Homo sapiens: one gene and its partner. The protein of the gene in region 1 purifies or fractionates together with the protein of each later gene. This does not show direct contact. Each region holds a gene or a part of one and is shown in the gene's direction. Other genes may lie near its edges.

Evidence for each region.
Region 2: the proteins of RIN2 (region 1) and NAA11 purify together in Homo sapiens (affinity purification with mass spectrometry; 2 studies listed by BioGRID and IntAct, with this or other methods). This does not show direct contact.

What each region holds. Positions count from the first base shown.
Region 1 is NC_000020.11:19,984,071-19,994,506, forward strand, and holds part of RIN2 (ras and Rab interactor 2), read left to right. Parts: intron 1-5,935; coding exon 5,936-6,241; intron 6,242-8,097; coding exon 8,098-8,229; intron 8,230-10,436. UniProt on the Homo sapiens protein: Ras effector protein. May function as an upstream activator and/or downstream effector for RAB5B in endocytic pathway. May function as a guanine nucleotide exchange (GEF) of RAB5B, required for activating the RAB5 proteins by exchanging bound GDP for free GTP.
Region 2 is NC_000004.12:79,314,930-79,325,365, reverse strand, and holds the end of NAA11 (N-alpha-acetyltransferase 11), read left to right. Parts: coding exon 1-178; 3' UTR 179-190; intron 191-7,574; 3' UTR 7,575-8,719; downstream 8,720-10,436.

The sequences.
Region 1 (10,436 bases):
TCATTCTGAGCAAACTATCGCAAGGACCAGAAAACCAAACACTGCATGTTCTCACTCATAGGTGGGAATTGAACAATGAGAACACTTGGACACAGGGTGGGGGACATCACACACCTGTACATTTTTAATACAATCATGTGTTGTTTAACTACAGGGATACATCTGAGAAGTGCACTGTTAGAGAATTTTGTTGTTGTGGGAGCATCATAGAGTACTTACACAAAGCTAGATGGCATAGCCTACTACATACCTAGGCTATATGGTATATCCTGCTGCTTCTAGGCTACAAACCTGGACAGCATGTGACATACTGAACAGTGTAGGCAACTGTAACACAATGCTCAGTATCTATATATCTAAACACGTCTAAACACAGGAAAGGAACAGTAAAAATACGGTAACAGAATCTCATGGGGCCAGGCGTGGTGGCTCATACCTGTAATCCCAGCACTTTGCGAGGCTGAGGTGGGTGGATCACCTGAGGTCAGGAGTTCAAGACCAGCCTGGCCAACATGGTGAAACCCCATCTCTACTAAAAATACAAAAGTTAGCTGGGTGTGGTGGTGCATGCATGTAATCCCAGCTACTCAGGATGCTGAGGCAGGAGAATCACTTAAACCTGGGAGATGGAGGTTGCAGTGAGCCAAAATTGTGCCACTGCACTCCAGCCTGGGTGACAGAGTGAGACTCTGTCTCAAAAAAATAAATAAGAATCTTATGGGACCACCCTGGCATATGTGGTTCATCTTTGACCAAAACACGCCATTATGAAGCATGTGATTATATTACATGGTTTAGACTCTGGGTGTGGTTAGATTCCCTGGAGAGTATTGATTTTTACTTTGTGTTGTTTGAACAATCACCAACTCAGTTAGGTTCAGACTGCTGGCTCTGTCTTGCCTTCTGTGGACAATGATTCTGATGGCTGTCCAGACAGTGGCAGTGAGAGGGGAAGGGACTTGGCCTCCCCACGGCTCCCAGGGCTCTTTCTAACACAAGCAATTTCTCCAGTCTTCAGCTTTGCCTCTCAAAGTCTCACTGCCTTCTGGCCAGCAGTGGAAATGCAGAAAGTGTACAAACAAAGCCACTGAATTGCTGGTCTTGTGATGTTTCCTTGTCTATCTCCAGCCTCTGGAATCCATGCAGTAGGTGGTCAGCATGAAGGAAAGGGTCAAGGTTTCTGTCTCTCTTCCTTAATGGAGGAGTGAATCAATTCTTGGAGAAGTAATAAGAGTGAATCACTTCTTGTCTAGAAGCCAACACATTGAATACTTCCTATAAATTATTACAGTAAGTGACATTTAGTCAAGGAAAAGCCAGCAATTGCTATGGCCTCTACCACTTTCCTCTTATGGATTATTTTGGGGCCAGTTGATATAATCTTGATAAATATTTTCAGAAAACTTGTTTCCAGTTTTGATCATTTAGAAACATTTAGTTTCTAAAGTTCAATATGTTGTGGTTCAAACGATTTTTTACTATTTGCTTGTTACTAGAAAAATAGAAAAGAAATGAGTGAGGCTGGGCATGGTGTCTTATGCCTATAATCCCAGTGTTTTGGGAGGCTGAGGTGGGAGGATCCCTTGAGACCAGGAGTTCGAGGCCAACCTGGGCAACATAGTGAGACCCCCAGCATCTCAACAACAGCAACAACAAAAAGACCTTAATGAGCTTTAAAAGCATATACTCATCTTACTCATCTGTAAAGGTTTCAGGTGTTTGTTTTGCACGCGTGCTTGTGGATGAATACAGTTGACATTACTCCAAGAACTCAGGAAACATTTTATGAGTTCCAGTCCTGGCTCTCCCTCTTGATAGCTGCATGACAAAGATGTCCTTGGGTTTCAGTTTCCTCATCTGTGAAATGAAAACATAGTAGGCCTCCCTGGATGGAGTTTGTCTGAGGATTTGAAGATCCAGTGCAGGTAAAGTGGCTAGAATAGTGTCATTGTTCTGAGAGTTTAAAAGGTTTTGTTTTTTTGTCCAGGAATTAACGATTAATGCAAAAAGAGATCATAGAAAAAAATGGAGAGTAGTAATTTATGAGAAATGTGACCAATTTGTTCTTTCCTCTTTTGTCTGAGGTGGTTCATGTTATGAAAGATCGTCTGTTCCTTGGGCTCCTCAAATCCTTTTTCCTTCTCGCTTTATGAGCAGAAGCTTGCTTTTCCTATTGGAGAGAGCCAGCTGGATCGTGGGTCCCTCTTTTCATTTAGGCTCTTGTCCCCTACTCTTTATGTTTATTAAGGATTTGGGGAGGGTGGGGAGGAGGAGTGGGATAAACCTCTGAAAAAAAAATGCAGGGACCAGTTTCCTTATTTTTAAATTATGGTCTTTAAAGAAAAATGTCCTAAAATCTACCACTAGCAATTACTTTTTCATTTTATTTTCAGAAAACGGGCTACTCCCTTGGCAATTGGTCCTAGGTTTCAACCCTCCTAAGAGATTTCCACAGCCCCTTTTATACCCAAGGGTGGAATTCCCCTCGAAGGCCAGCACCCCTCCCTGGCAGCAAGGATGAGTTGCTCAAGGGAGCCTGTCCAACTTGCTAGTAACGACTTTTCTGATGTCATCATTCCCCAGAAGCAGCTGCGAGCCTTTTGGGGATGATTTGTATTAACACTCTGGCCCAGAGGTGACCGGGCTCACTCTGATGATAACAGTTGCCCGTGGGGTTCAAGGTGAAAATCTCATCCAGGTCTTTAGTTGTTTTCTGTTTTTCTGATTCATATACATTTATTGAGGTTTAACTTACATCCATAAAGTGTGTAAATCTTAAGTACTCGGCTCAACAGAATTTTACACACATGCACACCCATGTAGACACAGTCCAGATCCAGATCCAGAACATCTCTAATCCCTGGTGTCCTGTCCTGGCCCAGATCCTCCCCAAGGGGGACTGCCATCATGACTTCTGTCCCACAGGTTAGTTTTGCCTGCTTTTGAACTTCATATAAACGAAATGCTGTAGGAGATACTCTTGTGTCTGGGTTCTTTCACACAGCCTTGCGTTCATGAGATGCATCCATGTTGTTCTGGAGCAGTAATGTGAGCTTTTTCATTGAATAAATACATTCCATTGTCTGAATTTCATTGTAGTATTCCATTGAATGAATATATCCAATGTATTCATTTCTGTCCAAATGGGCCTTTGGGTTATTTCCAGCTTGGGGCTATTATAAATAACATTACTATGGACATTCATTTACGTTTCTAATTAATGACTGACATGGCCTTTGTCCTCCCGTGGTGACCCTATTTTAACCAAGTAGTGGTCACTTACAACCATGAATGTAGCTTTCAGAATGTTTGGATGAGAGGAATAAACTGGCGAGTATTTATAAAGTGACTTGAACTTTACAATTAAAAGATTATTTACTTTGAAAAGCTGTATAAATGGTTATTTAAAATAGTTGTGTGGCTTCTATCAAGCCATTAGTCATCTCTGAGCCTCAGTTTCCCCATCTGTTAAACGGACATAATATTAGTATTGTGCAAAAATAATAGAATTATTGCAAGGATTAGATGATAGTGAAGTAAAGCACTTAGATGGAGGCTGGCCCATCTGAGCACTCAATATTAATTTCTGTTATTAATTTTTTATCATAATGATGATATAAGGTAAAGTCAAAGATGCTATGAAGTTGCACGAGCTTATTAACACAAAGCAACCAATGTAAACCAAGTAATTTGTTTTAATGCCAGATGTGAATAAGTTGTTCTGCTTTTTTTCCTACTTTATAACCTCCTTCGCATCAACCTTGATTTCTATAGTTATATAAACCTTTGTATTTAAACAAAGAGATCTCCTGGATAAGTTGGAAGAGGAGAAAGAAAAAAACAACTTGGGCTGGGGAATCTGATGATTGTGGGGTCAGCGTTAACTTTTGGCCTCAGTTTTAACCTTGGGGGACTGTTTTCATTGTTTGTACCTCTGCGTTAGATTTATCTTTGTCCCTGGCCTTCTAATAATAGGTAATCATTTGAATTCAATAAGATCTGATCCAGCGTCAGGAATTCCAAAGGCCAGAGAGACAACTCAACTATTTCTTTTGCTTTTTCTTTTGAGACAGAGTCTCATTCTGTCACTCAGGCTGGAGTGCAGTGGCAGGATCTCGGCTCACTGCAAGCTTTGCCTCCAGGGTTCAAGAGATTCTCATGCCCCAGCCTCCAGAGTAGTTGGTATTACAGGTGTGCGCCACAACGCCAAGCTAATTTTTTGTATTTTTGGTAGTGATGGGATTTCGCTGTGTTGGCCAGGCTGGTCTTGAACCCCTGGCCTCAAGTGATCTGCCCACCCCAGCCTCCCAAAGTGCTGGGATTACAGTCATGAGCCGCCATGCCTGGCCTAACTTAACTATTTCTGATCTTATATGTAAGTGGACCCATTGGCTTCCCAAATGGAATAAAATTAAGGTGTCATCATTTTATGCGTAGATGCTGCAGCAGAACCCAAGGGGCTCAGATGAGAATGTGCAAACGTGTGAGGTCAAAAAGCTGCTATTGACAAAGCAGAGGAGTTATTATTATATAAATAGCCTTCAGCCCGCATCTCTGGATTTATGGTACTGGTCATTTTAGTATTAGCCAAGAAAGCTACTCCACTGGGAAACCATTCAATGAAGGAGGGAAGAATAACGCCTCCCACACCCAAAGGTGTTTCCTAACTCGGAACAGAAACACATTTCACACATTTTTAACTTTTAATTTTGAAATCATTTCAGATTTCCAGGAAAGTTGCAAAAATATCATAAAGAAATATCTACCCTTCACTCAGATTCCCAAATGTTAGCACTTCGCCACATCTGCCTCATTCTTCTTTCTCTCTCTTCACACACACACACACACACGCGTGCACACACACAGATACATGCACGTACACATACATGCACACAAATACGTGCACACACACTGTCTCTCATTTTTTCTGAACCATTTAAGTTGCAGACATTATATCCCTTTACCCCTAAATACTTCAATGCATATTTCCTAAAAACAAGGCTATTCTGTTTAATAACTACAGTATAATTATCAGACCTAGAAAATTAACACTGATGCCTTGTTAGCACTATTACCTTATCTGCAGGCTGTATTCGATGCCCCACTAATGTCCTTTATAGCAAATGAAGAATTTTTTAGTCCAGAATCTGATCCAAGATCACATACTATATTTAGGTGGATCTATTTCCTCAGAAAACATTCTTTTTTTTTTTTTTTTTTTGAGATGGAGTATCACTCTGTCACCCAGGTTGGAGTGCAGTGGCACAATCTTGGCTCACTGCAACCTCTGCCTCTTGGGTTCAAACAATTCTCCTGCCTCAGCCTCCCCAGTAGCTGGGACTACAAGCGTGCACCACCATGCCCAGCTAATTTTTTTGTATTTTTAGTAGAGATGGGGTTTCACTATGTTGATCAGGCTGGTCTCCAACTCTTGACCTCAAATGATCTGCCTGCCTCAGCCTCCCAAAGTGCTGGGATTACAGATGTGAGCTACCACGCCTGGCCCTCAGAAAATATTCTAAGAGATGTTGAATGCTCATTATTAGAAAATCCTTCCTTTAAGATAACATCTTTGCTCTCCTGTTAATTGGATGACCAGTTGAAGGACTAGGTCAAAAGAATGTCTTCTAGCATATTTGCCTGTACTTACAGGGATAGGGCATGAAAGTAATTAAAACAAATATATTTCATTGTATTGATTATATGCAAGTTAGACATCATTGGGGAAGATTCGGTCTTCCTGGCTTTTCAGAGAAAAATGTTAACATGTGAGTTATGGCGCTGCTTGGTGTTGTCTGTTGGTTGGATGTTAAGGTGTACAATTTGTGTGCCTGCAACCAATGCATAGAGTTGCAGATGTCCATTGTAAGAAAGCAGATGTTGCATTTCTTCTTTCTTCAGACAATAGTCATAGTAGCTACACTTTCTTTGGCAGATGTGGTGCTGGAAAAAGCCATGCACAAGTGCATCTTGAAGCCCCTCAAGGGGCACGTGGAGGCCATGCTGAAGGACTTTCACATGGCCGATGGCTCATGGAAGCAACTCAAGGAGAACCTGCAGCTTGTGCGGCAGAGGAATCCGCAGGAGCTGGGGGTCTTCGCCCCGACCCCTGATTTTGTGGATGTGGAGAAAATCAAAGTCAAGTTCATGACCATGCAGAAGATGTATTCGCCGGAAAAGAAGGTCATGCTGCTGCTGCGGGTCTGCAAGCTCATTTACACGGTCATGGAGAACAACTCAGGTGAGGCCGCTGGAAGCCCAGGCTTCGTGCCGCTTCCCTTCCGGGCCGGGGACAGGCCTCTCTCCTGTCAGGCTTTCTGATTCCCAATTTCTCCTCCCTTTGGTCTCTTGATTTCACCAAGTGGCTTACAGAACTACAAGTGATTCTCTGATATCCGGCACATTAGTCACATGCAACAGATTAAAATGTAAGCAGATGAGGGCAACAAGATTTTTGTACCAGGCCGATTTAATTAAAGATTTAGTTCAGAGTATGGTTACAAATTCAGTCTCTGGAGTCTGAGTTCAAATCTTCCCTCCGAGAAGAAGAAAATTAACTGAGGGACTTTGGCCCCCTTAATCAACCTTGCACGCTGTAGTTTTCTGCGTCTTTAGCCGGATGTCACCCTTTCTTTCATGAGGTGGGGATTAGCTGAGACAGCCCACACATAGCCCCAAGTGCAATGGAAATGTCAGCGATTATCATTACAACATTTTGGCCAATGAGGGTTTGTGTCAATGACCTATAGTATGTGAAAGAAACTCTGAACATTCAGTTATAATGAGGCCTCATTAGAGCCGCTTCATTGGCTAGCCCTTCTTTGCTACAAGCTGAAGCAATATAATTGAAATTCACCGAAGAGTTACAATCTTGGAAAGCCAGCCCTCAGATTTAGCCTTGTTGTTTCCTGTAGATGCAGGGGTAACCATGAATCCTGGATAGTAATGGAGCCCTGCATTGTCCCAGGTCTTCAGTAAGCTTATTGTAATTCTGAAGACGATTACGAACTTTTCTTCTGAGTGAAATTGCTTAATGGAGAAGCAGCAGAGAGAAAACACAGGCTGTATTAACCACTGCTTGAGTAGACAGGAATGTGTGTGCACTTTGGGAATTGTTGAGTGAAGAAGTTAAAATATGAGCTCCTGGGCGTGGTAATGATAGCAAGTGAACATCACCTCACAAGTTTGCAAGCATATTTCACATATAGGAAACATATTTTCTATAGTTCACAGTTATTTATAAAAATTCCCCAAATAATATCTGAATATCTGAATTCCCCAAATAATTCAGAAGGATTATGCTCTTCTGAAGCACAGTTCCTCAACACACACACTAAAGACATTAATGTAGACAGGATAATTCTTCTTTTGGGGGCTGCCCTGCTTCCTGTAGGAAGTTTAGCAGCATTCCAGATGTCATCTGCATCCCCACCCTCCAGTTATGTCAATGAAAAATGTCTTCAGACAGTGCCAAATGTCCCCTGGGGGACAAAATTATCTCCAGTTGAGAACCACTGATGTAAAGAAAACTAGAAGTAAACACTAACATTTTTTGCCATATATTTCCATTAATCAATGTGTATATTCAACATGTACTGAATTGGCACGTTTAAAGAAATTAACTGTGTGCTCACATTAAATACAGAGCAAAGTTAGCTTATTCCTGGTTTGAGTTTGACCTTGTCATTATGTTTGTAAATAATGTGCACAGCAAGAAAGAGGAAGTAAGACACAAAGAATTAGCATAAGTAAATATTTTGTAAGCATTTTATAATCTTGTTTGCTGAAAGTTAAAATATTTTAACGAGTATTCTGTTCTATCACATAATTTTATACAAATTATAAAAGTAGGGAGAAAATCTGTAATGTGTTCATTGGTTCATAGACATTCATTCTGAAACTGTAAGGGCTGGTCTCTAACATTAGCAGCTGGGAGGGTCAGAGGCTACATAGGATTCCAGAAACACTCACCTCTGTTTATAAATAGCACAGTTCCCCCCAGAGTGACTCCTTGCTGTCTAATAAAAGCAGCAAGAAGGATGTGAAAGAAAGAAAAGTTGGTAAAAATATTCCATCTCCTTCTCTTCCTGCTCTCAGGGAGGATGTATGGCGCTGATGACTTCTTGCCAGTCCTGACCTATGTCATAGCCCAGTGTGACATGCTTGAATTGGACACTGAAATCGAGTACATGATGGAGCTCCTAGACCCATCGCTGTTACATGGAGAAGGTAACTGCTTTTGAGAAAAGTTGAAGGAACTGGGTGCTATTTTTTTCATTTTTTTATAATTGAGACGAAATTCATGTCACATAACATTAATCATTTTACAGTGAATAATTCAGTGGCATTTAGTATATTCACAATGTCATGCATTCTCCACCTTTATTTAGTGTCAAACTATTTTCCTCACCCTAAAATAAAATTCTGCACCCATGAAGCAGTTACTTGGGTGCTTTTTTGACATCTTAAGTGTTAACTGAATTTTTTATTAATTTAAAAGAGTGTACTAACCTTTTTCTGATTGCAAAAGTAATACACACTCGTGGTAGAAAATTTGGAAAAGTCAGGAAAAACACAAAGAAAAAATATAACCCCATCTTAACTATACTTCACTAAGATTGCTTAATGGCAATAAAAAAAATACATTCAGTAGAATAAATGCCATTTTTTTTGGAAGAAATGGTTTCTTTGGCTCCAAGAGGAAATTATAAACTTTTGTTGAGGATATTTCCATTGCCAGGAAAATAACCTGCTCTTATATTAGTGAAATGGATAAAAGCTTGGCTTTGTTTTTATTTTTTAAAATTTCGTTTTCAAGGTGAAAACAGTATTAATTTTTTTCCAGTTTTTTTTAAGTATCTTTTCATTTTTATAGTAAAAATACAGGGGTGTGGAATCTGTGCAGTTTGCTCTCAATTTACGTTGGCATTCGGGTTCCTTCTCCTTGTGTCTGCCTAACCCCAACATGTCTTAGCAGAAATTCCTTCTCCTTACACATAGCTTAGGTATTTTACATGGAAATGATTAGGATGTTTGGCACAGTAGTGCACAGCCTTGAAACGCAGAAATAACTGGGACTCTATGTGAGCTTATCTTTTCAAAGGAGAACAAATCAGGGCCTGTGCACTGTGAATCCTCTTAATCCATTTTTATATATCCAGATAAAAGCCCAGACAAGCCCTGGGGGGGATTGTCACGGTTTCGTTTTTTTTTTTCCCGTGAGTTTCAGTCTGGGCTTGAGTAGAAAGGTCCATCTCTGACAGGATTCCCTAAGGAATGAGTCATCCCAGCATTTTCCCTGGAGGGAATGAAATGCATTTTTACCACCCCCAGAATGTGCCCCCTTAGTCTCCTCAGTCCTGTAATGTGAATTCACCAGGCCTTAACTTTTCCTGTCGGAGGGACCGCCCTCCTTGGAGCCCGATTATGCCCTTCCCACGTGACCATGGGTAGTGCTGACTCAGGATGGGGGATGAATATCTCTCCTCCCGTACCCGATCCCAGGCAGGTATGAATGGGCCTCTTTCATGCTTTCACCCTTTAGCCTCTTCTGTCCCCTTATTAATATTACTAACCATGGAACCAGACACTCCCCGATGAGCCTCCAAGGCCCTCCCTGGAGCTTTTCTTGCCTGCTCTGCCCTGGGATTAGACAGGACAAGGCCAAACATGTGGTTTTGCCCAGGGACCAAGAGAAGCATGTTAGTCTACATAGCATGCTTTCCTTCCTTCCACTGTAATGTTTGTTATTAATACAGTTTGGGGTTTGGTTATTCTTTTTCGAGCTTCGATCATGTTTAATTCTAGTAATATAAGTATGTAGAGCTCTTAGGGCTTTGGGGAAAAAGACACGCCGGTTTCACTTAGAAAGTCGATTCTGTTGCTGACAATGTGCACTCAGGACAAACATTGCTTGTATCTTGTGGCTCAAGGATAGAAACAGCTACTTCCTGCCCCTTTCCCAGATTGGCCCAGGGCAAGGCCCTGTGTTGATGACTAATGGACAGGTGGCTGTCTTCTCCTCCACGAATCCCACAAGAAAGACAAGGGCACAGCTAGTGAGGATACAAAAGCTGCTGGTGAGCTCGCACTTAAATAGAGCCTGCTTCCACTTAACCGTGTCTGGGGCTTCTTGGCTGCCTTCCTTGGGAAGTAGGCGGCCCAGTTGGGTTGGCTGTGATCACAGACCAGGCCTGCACAGCATCGAACTGAAGCTATGCAGCCTGGGAGGAAGAGGCTACTGAGCAGTGGCAAAAATACAGATTGGACTTTTCCGTGCCTGCCCAAAGTCCTCTTTGGTTTGCGGGGTAGCAGCCACGTCTGTTTTCCGCTGTTTAAGCAGGTATTCTCATTTACCAAAAAGGCGTCATAGAATCCCTTAGAAGTGCACAGCTCTTGTGGTAGGGTTATAGTCTTGCTGAAATTTAAAACCTTCT
Region 2 (10,436 bases), on another chromosome or scaffold:
CCTGGGCTCCAGGGAGAACCAGGAGACCCAGGGCAGCACACTTTCTGATTCTGAAGAGGCCTGTCAGCAAAAGAACCCGGCTACCGAAGAAAGTGGCAGTGACAGCAAAGAACCTAAGGAGTCTGTGGAGAGCACCAACGTCCAGGACAGCTCAGAAAGCTCGGATTCCACCTCCTAGAGCATGCTTAAGGTATTCTGTCTTCCCTGACCCAGTACCCCCTTCTCCTAAATCCCTGCATCCTGCCTTGGCCTGCCCAATTCCATCCTGTCTTACCCCATTCTGGCCCTGCGAGATTTTACGGTAAAAACCACCTGGTGACCTTAGGGAGAAGTTAGAGTGAGTTGAGGGAGACTCATTACACGCTATTGGAAGTTAAATAGGATACCAGCTCATGCTGAAAGTAGATTAATTTCAATGAAGAAACAAGCATTTATCCTGCTTTTTGGGCATGAGTTGTATTTCAGGGTAACCACGTAGTTGATGAAAGGCATTTTTTTCTTTATGGAATTCCAGTTAGTAATAATGATAGAAATATAAAATCATCATTTTCCAACTCTTGATGAAATAATGGACCCAGCCAAGAGTCATCAATGGCTAATAGCATTAGGTAAAAGTTGGAGCACTTTGTAATGATGGATCAGACTGACAACACTTGAAGTCAGTGTAGTCAGTCTTCACTAAACGTGGAGACAAATATGTGTCTCCTTATGCAACAGGAAGTGCACAGTACTACCTATGAAATATTCTTTCCAAAAGAAAATTATGAGATCTGACTACCATTTTACAGAAAATAGAGGGACTTGTTAAACTATACCATGATGCAAACAGCCAAATCCAGAATGAGAGGTTTTTACAAAACAAATGACCTGGTTTCTTCAACAAATAAATGGCACACACACAAAAAAAGATGAAGCATTTTCTGTTAAACTTTACAGATACATTAAACTCAACTGCTATGGACATTGTTTGGATACTGATTCAAACAAACCATGTATAAGACATTTTTGAGATAATCAGGCAAAATTTGAACGGGGACTATATTAAGGAATTACTAATAATTTTATTAGAGGAGCTAAATGGTATTGTATTATGTTTAGAAAGTCCTTATCTGTTAAAGATACATACAGAAATAATTATAGCTGAAATAATAGGATGCCTAGGATTTCCTTTAAAATAATCCAGCAAAAAAAGAAGAAAAAGATTGAAAGAGGGAAAATGAAATAAGAATGGCAATGATAATTGTTGGGTTGGGAAATGGGTACTTAGGGGGTTCCTTATGCCATTTACTCTTTCGAATGTGTGAAAATTAGCATGAAAAGTTAAAGAGCCAAAACAATTACTGTACTTTTTTTTTTTTTTTTTGAGACAGAGTCTCGTTCTGTCGCCCAGGCTGGAGTGCAGTGGCGCGATCTCGGCTCACTGCAACCTCCACGTCCTGGGTTCAAGCTATTCTCCTGCCTCAGCCTCCCAAGTAACTGGGACTACAGGCGCCCGCCACCTCGCCTGGCTAATTTTTGTATTTTTGTATCTTTTTTTCTTTTTTTGAGATGGAGTCTAGCTCTGTCGCCGAGGCTGGAGTGCCGTGGCACTGTCTTGGCTCACTGCAAGCTCCGCCTCCCGGGTTCACGCCATTCCGCTGCCTCAGCCTCCCGAGTAGCTGGGACTACAGGCGCCTGCCACCACGCCTGGCTAATTTTTTTGTATTTTTAGTAGAGACGGGGTTTCACTGTGTTAGCCAGGATGGTCTTGATCTCCTGACCTCGTGATGCGTCCGCCTCGGCCTCCCAAAGTGCTGGGGTTACAGGCATGAGCCACCGTGCCCGGCCTAATTTTTGTATTTTTAGTAGAGACAGAGTTTCAGCATATTGGCCAGGCTGGTCTCGAACTCCTGACCTTGTGATCTGCCTGCCTCAGCCCCCCAAAGTGCTGCGATTACAGGCGTGAGCCACCGCGCCCAGCTCTTGTACTTCTTAATACACACTTATGCTAATACTAAGAAACCACTGAAACTAAGTTTTAAAGGATTGGTATGTTAGAAACAACTTAATTGTAATAATATACCACAGTATTTCTTCCATCAAAGGACTTTGTATCGCCTTAGGAATTTCAAGGGTCGGTGAGCTACTGGCAGTTTACAGGCTTTAACATCTTAATCTAGTCACCTTACCCTTACATGTATGAAAGGCAGCAACTTCTCATGGCAAAGTCTAGTCATAAATAGTGTATTCTGTATATAATTTCAGTAAGTGCTATTTGATTAGTCTACTCATTCATAAAAATATTTGTCAGGCATTAGGCTTGGAGCTGAGTATACAGCAGTGATCAAGACAGACTGATGTTTATATTATATAGCATTTAAGAATAAATGGACTTTTTTTTTGCATTTTAATGCCAAAACCGAAGCTATAACACACTAATCCCATTTTATTTTCATTCAGTTACAGTTCAGTATGTTATAAAAATTTAGATACAGTAAGTCTTTGGTGGTTAGAAAGAATCTGTCCTCAGAGGAGATTTTGCATCTGACTTTTAATAACCTGAAAGTTTCACAGTGACTGATTCATTTTTTCTAAAAAATAAAGCCGGCAGAACAGTCTAAAAGCAAAGATGAAATTAAAACTTGATGCCTTGAGAAAGCGTTGTCAAATTTACACCTGTCTTGAAAACCCTGGAGGGCTCTCTCAAGACTCTTTGAATGCACAAACCTTTTAAAAAAAATTTCAACTTTCAAATTCCTTCGTAGAAGGACTTACACAGTATTGATCTCATCTTTGTAGTTATTTGCTTCTCTTCATTGTTAAACTCTAGCTGAGAACAGAGCTAATCAGAGGTTGTTTTAAAACCATATATATATATATACACACACACACACACACACCTATAAAACTGATGAATTCAAAAGCACTTAATATCTGCTATGAGAAACAAAATAACTGCCACTGTAGTAAAAGAAGAGAGAAATAATAAATAAGAAAATTCATTGTTGTGTCACAGTTATAAATTTCAGCATACAAATTCAAGAATAATTGAACTGTTTCTTTATGATACCGTAATTGAACTTTATTTCTAAGTTGAAGGAAATGTTTCCTAGACTGAGCTTCACCGTCTTTCTGAGTTGTTATCTGCTGAGACATATTCAATGGCCCCATCCAATCTTTGATCCTCAGGATTCACTTCTGGGTCTTTTCCAACCGGAGGTCTCTTACCATTTTGGTAGCAAGGGTATATGAGTATTAGTCTGCACAGGCTAACTGCTCTAAAAATTAACTTCCAAATCTCAGTAACTTAACCCAATAAAATCTTATTTCTCACATCATAGTACAATGTGGGTCATCAGTGTGGTGGTGATGTGGAGTAGAGGGGAAAAGATGGACCCTACTCCATGGTATCATTCAGGGATCATTTAGACAGGGATTCTTAATTTTCTGTAGCTCCCTTTGGCAATCTGGTGAAGCAGAAAAATTTTTAAAAGATGTAAAAATTATACCAGATTACAAAGGAAAACAATTTCATTGATATAGTTATCAAACTATTTTAAAAATACTTTTGTTGTAATATATGTGCTTTGTGTTAGCATATTGAATAGCCTAATAATTACTATTATTTCAAAGTAAATTTTAGTATAAATGATATTTAAGATACCTTAAGTATCTATAATGTGATATGAAAATACCTATGAGTTTTATTGGTGACAAAGTCTCAAGTATTGCTAATACTACTGTGCATTGATTCCTATGTTCATAATTTAAAGAATTGCCAGATTTCAGTTAGAGGTTGATGAAAATACAGAATTGTTTTTGTTCCAAATCCAAGGTCATGGTTCTCCTACATCTTATTAAATAGATCCCAGGTTAAGAACTCCTAATTCAATGACTCTTGTCATTTTCTAGGATCATAAGACCTTCAACTGGTTCATATACATTCAACTAGCAGATGAGAGAAAAGAATGTATATAGTGGTTAATAAAGGTTTTAAAAGTCAAGTCTTACCCAACTAACTGCAGGGGAGGCTATGATATTTAGTTTAGCTTTGTGCTCAGGAAAGAAAGGAAGGAGTTCAGCAACAACACAGCATAGTTTCTGCCACAATAGGAAACATCCTAGTGGTGCTCTGGACTTTGAGAAGTTTTGCTTCCATGCCCAGTTAGAAGCAATGGGATCATACAGCTGCTCTCACTCCATGGCATGGCCCAGGGAACTCTGTTAGGCTGTCTGAGGTTGTCTACATAAACACCTGACATATATTTATTCTGCTGCTTCACAAACTTGGGCGTGGAAAACTATGGGATTCTGTTATCTTGCTGCCATTATGCCACTAATTAAACCTGGGACAAATGACCCCTCTCCTCTGAAGTCCCCAAAACTGTCTAAATCTTCACTTGCATCCCATTTAATAGGGATTCACCAGCACATAGGTCTAGCTCCCTGAATGGAGAAAGGCTACAGTGAAGAAAGAAAGAACAGGAAAAACATTTAAAAGGCTCATACTGCAAAAGTACTATCCTTCTACAATTGTGGTGCTCCCTCCTGTGGAGCTGGAGTTCAAATACCTATAGAAAAAATGTCCTAAAAAAAATATTTTTCATTTTCCCTATCTGTACTTTTGGATTTGGGAACAGAGACAGAGTTAGAAGTGATGCTGAGCAGGACAGTTGGTGAAGAACTGGTTGATTTCATCTAAAAAATGGTAATAAAAATTGCTCTTCACACTATGAAAACGCACTGTTTTGCAGGTATTAATTCTAAGCACTGTTAATGATGTGTTTCATTTATTCCTCATAATAAGCCTGTGAGGTAGGTACTATTACTCCATTTTGTGGTTGAGGAAATCATGTCACAGGGAGGGCTGCATGTTATACAGATAGTGGAAAACAAGGATGCAAACTCAGGTGGTCAGACTCCATGATTGAGAAGATTAAATGAGTCAATCTATGTAAATTGCTAAGCACAACTCCTCACACACAGTAAAATAATCAATAAATTTTAGCTCTTAATATAATCGATAGTAAGAGTAACTTTTCAGGTTCTCTTCTTCTCCACGGTAATCAAATGATAGAATGTTGTGTATGAGCAGCAACAGTTTGCAATCTTGGATGGGAAATGCATCTTAATGATTAAAATAGCTTTCACTGACAAGCTAAATGTCAAAGCATTCAGCTGAATCAACGCTTGTCAACGGCAGAGTTTCTTGGGAGCCATAGCAATGAAGACAGGTCAGTTCAAAACATGCTGGTTGAGGCAGGAATGTCATCAAACTGCTGCTTATCTCTTGACAAGAAATATGTGCTTGATTATTAATAACAAAAATGAAAAAAATGCAAAATCTTAGTGTTTTCAATTGAGCTGGCAACATTGAGTTAAGTAAGGTTACTTCAGTGACTCTCCCTTTCTGGTTTATTCTTTGTGTCGCTAAACTGTCATTCTAACAAAAAGTTGTTAAATGTTCACATGAGCAGTCACTGAAATAGACTGTTCTTAATTTTACCAGACAACTAATTATAACTGGAATGATATAATGAAATATGGAAGAAACCTACAGACTGACAGGTCTGGTAAATTCGTAGTATAACCTTACCCCAGATATGCCAGAAACCATAGATTTCAAATGCAACTGCACTCTATGAAGATAAAGAGGGGGTTGGGAAGAGATAAAATATTGTTTTGAAATACTAATCAGATAGATGCCATTTGTTGAATTATTTATAATCTCTAACAATGTCACCTTTCAATCAGTGTATGATGTACATGTAGGATGACTGAAATACCAACTTTGTCAGAAGTAACTGATAAAAGCAGAGGTTTTTCCTAAATTTTGTACTCTATGCTCTAGTATATGAAATCCAATGGGCTTTATGGTACAGGAGGTTAGATAGAATATTTAAAATTCTTTGAATGGGCAATGATTCAAAGAGCCACCATAAAAGCCTTTCTGAAAATATTCTACAATGCCATTTCTATAGATAAATATCTTTGGAAAATTATAGGATTTTTTTTTAAAGTAAAGCCATAGTATTCTGTTTCATGTTTATAACACCATATCGACAAATAGCATGTATTTGTCAGGCTTCCATAGCCCACCTTTAAGAAAACCTGATAATGTAAAACTTTGAACTTAATAAGCAAGACATTAAGGGCTTGGGGTGGGCACAGCGGCTCATGCCTGTAATCCCAGCACTTTAGGAGGCCAAGGCGGGAGCTTTGCATGAGGCCAGGAGTTCAAGACCAGCCTTGAAAACATAGCAAGACCTAGTCTCTACAAAAACTAAAAAACATTAGCCAGCGTGGTGGTGTATACTGGTGCGTGCTTGTAGTCCTAGCTACTCAGGAGGCTGAGGCTGGAGGATCACTTGTGCCCAGGAGTTTGAGGCTCTTGTGAGCCATGATTGTACCACTGTGCTCCAGTCTGGGTGACAGAGCAAGACCCTGTCTCAAAAAAAGGACTATAATACTAACATTTTAAAGGGAATCTTTATGAAAAATACCTATACTCTTAAACAACAAACTATCCTATAGCCTTTATTACAGTGTTATTTGACTTTTTCAGTTTAATTTCTTAAAATTTTCAAGCAGTATTTACTGAGATAACTAAAACAGCTATATAACTTCTTTTGCATGCCTGTTCATGCAAAAATGAAAAAGGCAATGATGATAGTCTTTCTGACCTGTTCCTCCATATCTTGTGTCTCTTTTGTTATAGCAAATATACTTTAAAAAATAAGATTTTACATAGTATTACCTCTTACAACTGGCTTCACTTGTTATTCTGGCAACAGAATTTTCTATAACAATGATTTTGTACAAAAATGCTTTTTAACTGCTCTGTGCATAATAGTCAGCCTCAATCTTATTTACTTCTGTGTGCATATGATAGATGAAAAGGTACTGAGTAAATATTTATTGAATGAATGAATGAATGGACCTCTCAAATTACCCATATAATAAATTTTTTTAAAGGAGAGAAAAATAATGTATGTATGATTCCTCTTACCTGATATAATTACCTACTTCCTCTTACCTGATGTAATTAGGGCACTTTAATTTGTGAATAAAGAAACATTATGGTTATTTTGGTTTCCTGTCCAGGCCTCAGAAAGAAAATATGACTTATAGAGTTGGACACATTGCATCTAACTTATCAAGAGCTAAAAAGGCCTTTCATTTCTTTAGAATTGGAATAAATTTTCTTTTGAGTGGAGTAGGATGAGATAGAATTTAAAGATGACAAGCAAAATGATCTCAGTTTCTTTAGTTTTAAAATAGGTTCTTTGGGGGTAAATCCCAGTTTTTTGGTGTTCTTCCTGTCCCTTTCTCCTGGCAGAAATGTCCTTTAGATGTCAGGAAAGGTTCATGTGTTCTTATGGCAGGGAGGGGAGAGAGCCCCAGATCTGTGTGTGGTCTTTGTGCAGTCATCTGAATTCTCACTGACTGCCATGGAGATATATCTAGTCCAAACTAGTTACTGGGTTTCTTTATCTGCTGTTCCAGTCTATCATTAACTAAACCAGTATTCTTTCAGAGCTGTCAGAGCTTATAGCTCTCCCTTTCTCATTTGTTTTCTTCTCATTTTTCAACAGCATTTCAGGTCCTCATGTCTCAACCACATCTACTCTGTGAACCCTGGCTTAGTCTGTCTGCTCTGCAGCATCTGCTGTGGGGATCATCTCACAGTGACCAGAATGGCTTCTCACTCTTAACTCTATAAACAACCACCTTTCACATATCCTGCTGGGATCATGAAGGAATACCTGGACACAAGAGCCACTGCACAACAGCCAAGGAACTTTGAGACCTGCCATTACAGAACCTTTCTTGGCCTACTCACACTACGCTGCCATTTTATTCTGTTTGTAGTAGTCCTCTGTTGGGTGTGGTTATCCTGCAAGTTTTTCTCCTTTTAGAATGATGAACAGGAAGCAGGGCAAACTCTTGAAGATTTCCAGCTTTCAGTTTTTGTTTTTGTTTTTTAACCATTATTTACCTGAGTTTTCATCCTTGAGGAGGTGAAGTAGTCAGGACCATGAAGTCAGACCTCATGCCCTCTTCCTCCTCTTTCCTGGAAGAAGTATTCAGTTTCCTTTTCCTTTCTCTGGTAACTCCTCCTTTATACTATTCCCCCCTCCCTTTTTTTTGAGGAGGAGGGCATCACCTTCCCAGTGGGAAAAGGTGTTAAGTTAGGAGCTTCTACTGTACAATCAGAACTTGGAGATTTTAAGAAAAGGACAAACGGTAATTAAATTGGAATCTCTAATGTGCTTGTTTGTGTTAGTTTTTTTGTGATTATGTCACTTGGCATTTATTGAGTACCTGCAGTGTTCACACACAATGCTGGAGCCTTCATTAGTTACATATTTAACCCTCTCAGCAACCCTGTAAAGTAGGTAGTATTATCCCTGTTTTACAGATGAGGAAACTGAAGCTCAGAGAAGTGAATTAAATATCCTGGATCTGAACCCAATTCTGTTTGAATTCAAAGCCAAAGTTCCTTCTACTTTTCTGTTCCTACTCTTTGCATTTTATTTATAAATGTGTTAAAATTTTAGCAAAAATGGAGAATCTGCTGTTTAAAAATGTGTTTGCTTAATACATGGCTACTGTATGTCAATTGTAAATATTTATATAACCTACAATTATAATCTATTTTTATTATTTTTCTCTAGTAAAAATAAGTGAAGACAAAGTACCTTGACCTCTGCAGTAAAAGTTACCAGATAAATCCAGAGTTATCATTACTTAATGTTGTTTTTATGTTCACTGAATGTGAATTACCAAAGTATATAACATTTTTCATGTTTAAACTTTTATGAAAACTGGTGTGTATGGATTTAAGTCAAAGCCTGGACTTTATCTGGTGACAAGAGGTAAGTCTTTTCTGTGTAATCGTAATTAGCCCTGCTAAGCAGTTCTTACAGATCTACCCTAGTGCACTCTAAGAATGTCTGCCTAATGGTAAATGATTGCCTGAGGCAGATATAAAAGTTTTTCCCTACATGAAAGGATTTGCCATTTCTTGTGCCAATACAGTATGATAAAATCTATCTTTCCATCTTTTCCTTTTTTCTTTTTAATATTCTATCTCAACGCTAAATTATTTTATTCTTTCCTCTCAACCATGTGTTTATCTCTTTATTTTTAAATATTACAGCTTTCTAACATCTGTCTCTAGGGCAGCATAATCTTACTGATGAAGTATTCCATGTTTTCCTTGAGCTTTTGTCAATATGTCTTTGTGTTAACAGCTTAGCAGATGGAGAAACAGAAGGAGTAGCCTCAGCTTACCTGAATGATTTTTTTCCAGCACCAGGCACATTGACTTGCTGTCTCTAGTAACTTGATAGGAGTTGGAGCAATTGGAAAATGGGAAATGATATATGACTTCTGCAGTGTTATTTACTAAAACAATTGGCATTTCTTTGTTATCATTATATCTTCTTTCCCAGTCTCGTACCAGGAGAAAGCAGAATTATAGCAGCCTATCTGGTTTGGGCTATAATGAAAATAAAATAAACAATAATACTAATATTGCTTTGGGCATAGATTAGCATGTTCATAATGGTTCCAGGACAGTAGCGGTGATTTAGCAGCAGCAGTGGCTTTTTGAAACACAAATTGTGAGAGTCTGTGGCACCATTTTTTTTGTAATAGCATTGTTCTTTTTACACAGGAAAAGTGATTTTTTTTTTTTTAATTCTGAAGGGACTTTTTACTGAGGCACAGTCCTAGAGAGAGCAAAGCAAGGCTTTGAAGCAAGGAGGGAGGACAGTTAATGGTGTGAATACCCTTATACTAGCTATATTTTATTCACTTGCAGCTTTAAATAAACTGGATGTGCTCAGGTCTGCTAGCAGATTATTTAAAGATATTGATCAGCTCACTACGTTTTCTTTGGTTAAAAGAGGAAAACTTGTGAATGAAGCCTGTGAGTTCCTAGTTAGAGTCTGTGTGGTTTTCCCTTTGGAGATAAGAGCAAGAAGCGAGAGATGACCATCTGAAATAAAAATAATGGGGTGTGGATATATGGGAGAAATGGGGAATAGTACTGGGAATTAGTCCACAGCCAGGAAAATTTAGAAAGGATCAGGACTGAAACACTGGAAAGAAAGTTTTCTTTATTTTTTATGTGCAGCTAAGTCATTTGGTTATTATGTTAAAAAATGCAGATTTTTTTTTTTTCAGTATGTCTGGTGGGGCCTGAGTATCTGCATTTCTAACTAGTTCCTACATTGCTCATGTTGCTGGTCCCGGAACCACACTTTGACTAGTAAGGGTCTTAAAGCTCATCTCCAACCCTTGGACTGGGGTCCAAAACACCTGTGACTATCCATTAGGTCATTTAATAATAGATTAGACCCTAAATAATTCAGATTCCCCTTCTTAAATATACATTTACATAAATCCTGTTTGAGTTTATGTCTTGATGGCCTAATAATTTCAATAAA